Homo sapiens: one gene and its partner. The protein of the gene in region 2 interacts with the protein of the main gene of each other region in a pairwise test. Each region holds a gene or a part of one and is shown on either strand. Other genes may lie near its edges.

Region 1 (2,688 bases), on a different chromosome or scaffold from region 2:
GCTGTTTACTACTAGCTTGTATCCAGTAGGCCACAGGAAGGTATGGAACATTCTTATGTGACATAATCAAGATTTCATATTCTGATACCTTCCAAGTAAGTACCTAGAGAGAATAGCAACCAATGAGAAGGCACTTTTCCACAATGAGCTCTTCTCAATCTCTCCTTGCCATCTGCTCAGCCTAAACCAATGAATTGGCTTTACAATCAGACTAAAACAAACAAACACTTTGTAGGTATATCCACTTTCAACCTTTGACTCACATGAGAGCTTTTTGTACACCAAGGAATATGTAGCAGTCATGACAGTGAAAACAGACTATGTATAAATCAAGAGAACGTATAACTGAATGTCTTGATACTACAATTATGTTAGAATAAGATTCCTCAACTCAATCTTTTTATTGTTTCCTGGATGAACAGCCAGCGAGGTTAAAGACAATGGCTAGAGCCAATAGCCCTCAACAGGCAATTCTGTTTACCACTGTCAGGATGAGATACTAACAAAACATAGACTTCTCTCGGGGAGACTCACCTGTACAGCTCCAAAAACTCTGGATAGGGATTTACAGGATCCAATGGCCCATAGATAAAATGAACTAGAAAAGAGAAAAGGAATGAAATACTTAACAGCTCTCACATCTGTTCTACTCCCACCCTAAAATTAACTCCTCTCCGAAAAGAAATGTTTTCTTCTTCCTTTTTTTATTATAATAGGCAAGGTCTCTCTCTCCCTTGCTCAGGCTGGAGTGCAGTGGTGCAGTCATAGCTCACTGTAACCTCAAACTCGTTGGCCCAAGCGATCCTCCCACCTCAGTGTCCTCAGTAGCTGAGACTACATACAGGTGTGCAACACCACACTTGGCTAACTTTTAAATTATCTGTAGAGAAAAATTTTTCTCACTATGTTGCCCAGAGTGGTGCCAAACTCCTGGGCTCAACCAGTCCTCCCACCTCAGCCTCCCAAAAAGCTAGGATTACAGACGTGAGCATCCTCACCCAGCCCAAGAAAATATTTTCTATAAATAATTTTTTGTGTGATACAAAACCTAGCTTGTTTTATTAGGTAACCTCTAAAAAACTGCTAGGCACGTACCAGTTCATTCATTGGACACATCTCCTCCTACAGACAACCATTTGGTCCCTCATCCAGCTCTCCTGCACCCTGGACCAAATGGGATATGCCCAACTTTCAACATCCTCTAAGTCCAGGATACTATCATTCTTTAAGTCTCTCTTCAGTTATAACAGACCCTTGACATTTGAAATCAACCAATAATTTCCTGAGCACTAATCACTATGTGTGAAACACCATAATTTTTTTTTAAATCTGTAAGAATGAAAAGACAAATAAGCACAAACCACCTATAGCCTCTTGATTAGTAATCCAAACAGCCTTCTGTCCGAGCAATTCAGCATGTAATGTGGCAGTCACTGACAATGCACACCACAGAAATCAGTAATACCAACTACCTTTACAGTAATGTCTCAGCTTTTTATATACTTCACTCTACACACACACATCACTGTTCCAGATGTCATGAGTACAGTTGCCAGTAAAATAAAGGATACCCAGAAAATTTGAATTTCAGGTGAAAAATGATTTTTTTTTGGTGTAAGTAGGTCCCAAATATTGTACAACATATACTTAAATACTAAAAAAGCATTTGTTGTTTATCTAAAATTCAAATTTAACTGGGTATCTTATATTTTTATTTGCTAAATCTGGTAACCCTAATTGTATAAAGGAGTTGCGATTACTTTAACCCTATAGTCCTTCAGTTTCCTATCAATAATACAAAAATACTCACTGGGGATAGTTACAGAGGCAAGAGCTCCCACCCAGCGCCTTCTGAACTTCTTCCTCTGATTGATGTACTGTAAGAGACTGTAGGACAGGTAAGTCAGCATGTGCAGAACAAGAAACCTTTACTGTTACAGGGATTCAAGGGCATAACGAGCCACAAGGAACACAAGATACAATTTCTTAATCCAGAAGCAGTTTAGCATTCCTGGAAATGTCCCACTTAATTTATCCATTTCTGTTAACCTCTAGAGTTAACCACCATGTAGCTCTAGTAGTGATTATGCCTACTATCAATATAAGAATTAGTGGGTTTGTGTATTTATTAAGCAGGGAATGAGATCTAGGAAGGCTGACAGTTGGTTTGGATTTTATGTAACTAAAAAGCCCAGGTCTGAGGTTCCAATTTAGGCTCCACCACTACCTACCTCTCTGACTCAAACATATAACACAGATCTTTCAACTCGGTTTCCTCATTTGTTGGTTTGTTTTTTAAAAGACAGGGTCTCCCTATGTTACCTAGGCTGGAGTGCAGTGGCTAGTCACAGGTGCAATCATAGCTCACTACAGCTATAACTTCTGACCTCAAGAGATCCTCCCACCCCAGCCTCCCAAGTAGCTGGGAGTACAGGCATGTGCCAAAGGACCTGGCTAGCCTCCTCATTTTTAAAATAAGAGGATTGTAACACATGATCTTCTGTGTTGACATCTACTTCTTTTTTTTTTTCTTTTTTTTTTTTTGAGACGGAGTCTCACTCTGTGCCCAGGCTGAAGTGCAGTGGCATGATCTCAGTTCACTGCAACCTCCGCTTCCTGGGCTCAAGCAATTCTTGTGCCTCAGCCTCCTGAGTAGCTGGAATTACTGGCTAATTTTTGTATTTTTAG
Region 2 (3,748 bases):
CCCCGAGGCCAGCATTGTACTCTTTGAGGTGGTTTCTTCACAGTGGGCTGGACCAAAGGTAAGGGGTTTCAGGGTCTCCTCCTTTAGAATAATTTCCATTCTTATTCCCAAACCTTTTCACCTCTACTCACAAACTTAGGAAATACCCAGTCTTTGACTACTGAAAGCCATTTTACAGAATGCAACCAAATGACACAAGTCCCTGTCAGGGTCTTATGGCTGAATGTCCTTTTCTCTAAGAGGAGTTATAATTGAGTTCATATCATTGAATTGTAGATCCTCCTACAAGTCACAAGAATAGCTATTAGCCCCTATTTTTAAAAATCTGGTTCTCTTCAGTCTCCTAATCCTCACGTGTTTCAATTCCCACCTTTCTATCACAGATATGAAAAAGCACCATTGCTGCTAAAAAAGCACTTTCTGGCACCGAAGGCTGCCAGTGGAGCTTTGCAGAAAGACTTTGTGGAAACTTATGTAGTGTTTAGCTCAAAATAAGCACCCATAAATATTTGTTGACTAAAACATTAAATAAGGAATCCAGAAACTGAACATTATCCTCTCTAAGTAATAAATTATTAAAGCTATGATGATCTCAATTGAATGCGAAGCACTCTATCTTTTTTCACAAAGTCGAAGTGGCTCTAAGACTCCTTTCGGAAGGCCCAAAATTTTGAGTGTTCTATGAAATGTAAGAAAATATCCATCACACAAAAGCCTCATCTGTCACTTCTCTTTTTGGGAAAACAGGTATTTGGGACCCTTGTTTGAGTGTCTTGACTCCGAGTACAACGAATTTCAATAAGAAGGCTTAGCAGGATTGTAGCTACTAAACACTATGCCTGTCTCTGGCTCCTATCAGAGACTGACCCCAACTATCCCAAGTGTCAAGAATGACATTCATGTTCACTGCAGGTGGGCAACCTGAGGCAGAAAGAGAGATGAAATCCCTTATCAAAAATACTCTGAGTTGGACAGTCACCGTGGCTCATGCCTGTAATCCCAGCACTTTGGGAGGCCAAGGCGGGTGGACTGCTTGAGTCCAGGAGTTTGAGACCAGCCTGGGCAGCATGGTGAAACCTCATCTCCACTAAAAGTACAGAAAATTAGCTGGGCATAGTGATGCATGCCTGTAGTCCCAGCTACTTAGGGGCCTGAGGCGGGAGGATCGCTTGAGCCAAGGAGGTTGAGGCTATAGTGAACCCTGATTTTGCCACTGCACTCTGGCCTGGGTGACAAAGTGAGACCCTGTCTCAAAATGAAAAAAAAAAAAGGTCAGGCACAGTGGCTCATGCCTATAATCCCAGCACTTTGGGAGGTTGAGGTGGGCAGATCACTTGAGGTTAGGAGTTTGAGACCAGCCTGGCCAACATGGTGAAATCACATCTCTACCAAAAAATTTTTTATAAGAATTAGCCAGGCATGGTGGTGCATGCCTGTAGTCCCAGCTACTCGGGAGGCTGAGGCAGGAAAGTCACTTGAATCCGGGAGGCAGAGGTTGCAATGAGCCAAGATCACGCCACTGCACTCCAGCCTGGGCAACAGAGCAAGACTCTGTCTCAAAAGTATATATATATAAAGAAAAAAAAGAAACAAAAAATACTCTGAGTCATGAGCACAGGCACCACATGACCACATATCTTTCTTCTGCCTTAAATGGATGTGGCAAGTGTGTTCTCTTGGACTTTTTCTCCATCAAAAGAACAAAAGGTCCCGATAACCTGGAGAGATACTTATACCTGATCTGCTGTGAGCAGAGGCTCCTCGTTGATACCGGAATCATTTTCACTCTTCTCATTGAACTCTTCCTCTTCTTTCTCATGGATCTGGAGAGGAGGTGGGGAGATGGAATTCTGGGTGACCATCAGCAGAAGTGGGATTGCCTCTAGTCTCGAGAATGGATGATACTGACTGGGAGGCCACTCCAGCCAGCTGCTGTCTAAACAGTGGAGCTGAAGAGGTGTCCAGAGTTTCATCCAATTCCAAACATATCTTTGCCCCATCACTAACTCCAGCATGCCAGAAATCCAGCATGCAGCACTGAATCCAACTTGGCAGGAAAAGACGACAGGGGAATGGCCAGCACCATTCTGACTCAAAGGGGACAGCACCGTTTTTTAACCCACAGACAGGTCATCCTGGGGTGAACAAGGCGCCTTCTCCAGGTAAGTGACACTGCAGCCAACTGCAGCAAAGGTGCCCTGATTTTGTTAAGGAGTTCCAACCTGGGGGGTTGTTTCCAGATTTCGTCTTACTAGGCATTTTAAGGAATAGGTTGTTCTAGTCCAAATAATGATGACTTTCAGAATTTGATGAAATGCCATCCTGTTACTGGAATCCAGGCATGATGTCATAGCTGATGGCAGATGTAAGAAATCTGCATGGGACATGCCACTGAATAACCTGACCACATGAACTAAACAACAACAAAACTACAAAAGAGAACCCCATTTATCTCATTTGCCCTGTGTCTCTATAATTCCATAATCCCAAGTAAGATCCTCAAAGTTCACAGCCATCAAAATTCTAGATGTTTAAATCTAACAAGCTATTCAAAGCATATCTGGCTTAACTGACCATATCCCAAACTGCCATAGTCTGGCATTTACATTCAAGTCCCACAGAAAAGTTAATCACTAAACACCTAACAAGCTGTATGTCTAGAAGTCTGATTTGAACGTCATACAAGGAGGAGGCAGGAGGTGTCTCTAGGAAATCTCTCTGCTGAGTCACCTCTCATCCAGGAATGAATCCTCCTTGCGCTCCAGTAGCTGGCACACCGATTGGCCCCTTCCCTGGGGCTTGTATTCTGCCTTTTCTAACAGGAAACAGCCCAGCTCCAATCCAAGCAATAATGTCAGAGGTAGTCTATCCTCAGAAACTTCTCCCGTCTTCTGTGAGCTTTGCCTTGGCAGACATCCCTAACAGAGCACATCACCTTTTATCTCCATTTGCTTAAAACCAGGACTATGTCATTAAAAAAGAAAAAAAAAATTAAGCAAATATATCTCAAATGCCATCCGCACTCAACCTAGATATGGGGTAGGACAGGGAGGTAATGGAATCATCTGAAGGGCCCGGGTACCAGATGGTGACATCTATTTCCGCTGTCAAACCCATATGCTCCTCTCTCTGCCAAGTCCACCACCTGCGATAGCCTCGTGGTTTCCACCGCTCCCCACTATGCAGAACAAAACTCCTGGAGCTACGCTTTGTTCACAACTACACTCATATGGAAGAACTTTCTTCAGGCCAGAAAATCCTGCAGTAGAAGTTAGCCCAAAATTAAGAGAACGAAGATACATTTTTTCCTCCAGACAAAAATTAGGGGAGAAAAAGGAAGAAATGTATCAATATGAACCCAGCCCAAGTTAGTGTGAGCCCAAGTTAGGCTCATCCTGGGAAACAGGGTTATTTTTCATAAGCATCTAACAGCAACTGTTAGTCTATAACCAGGATTTGGCAGGGGGTAGGGGGTGGTGGGCACTAAGTCTATATAAAAATGGCATGTTTACCTTTTCTGAAATGTGGCTGATTGTAGTGGGTTTAACTCCCTGACTGTTAATATTGCTTCTTTCAACTATATCATCTCCTCCCTCCCCAAGTTCCTCACTCCTTGGGGAGTTCCAGGAAGAAGGCAGGGAGGAAGCTTCTAGGGATAGATCCTTCTTGCTGCTCAAATGCTAATAAGCCTGGGCTGTGGCCGGAATGATGCACTAGTAGAGTTTCTCTCCCCTCCCCCTCTCAGGCG

Evidence for each region.
Region 1: the proteins of FEZ1 (region 2) and MEST interact in a two-hybrid assay, tested with the Homo sapiens proteins (one large-scale study listed by BioGRID and IntAct).

Annotation. Positions count from the first base shown.
Region 1 is NC_000007.14:130,501,843-130,504,530, reverse strand, and holds part of MEST (mesoderm-specific transcript homolog protein), read right to left. Parts: intron 1,888-2,688; coding exon 1,811-1,887; intron 599-1,810; coding exon 535-598; intron 1-534.
Region 2 is NC_000011.10:125,461,748-125,465,495, forward strand, and holds part of FEZ1 (fasciculation and elongation protein zeta-1), read right to left. Parts: intron 1,824-3,748; coding exon 1,737-1,823; intron 1-1,736. UniProt on the Homo sapiens protein: May be involved in axonal outgrowth as component of the network of molecules that regulate cellular morphology and axon guidance machinery.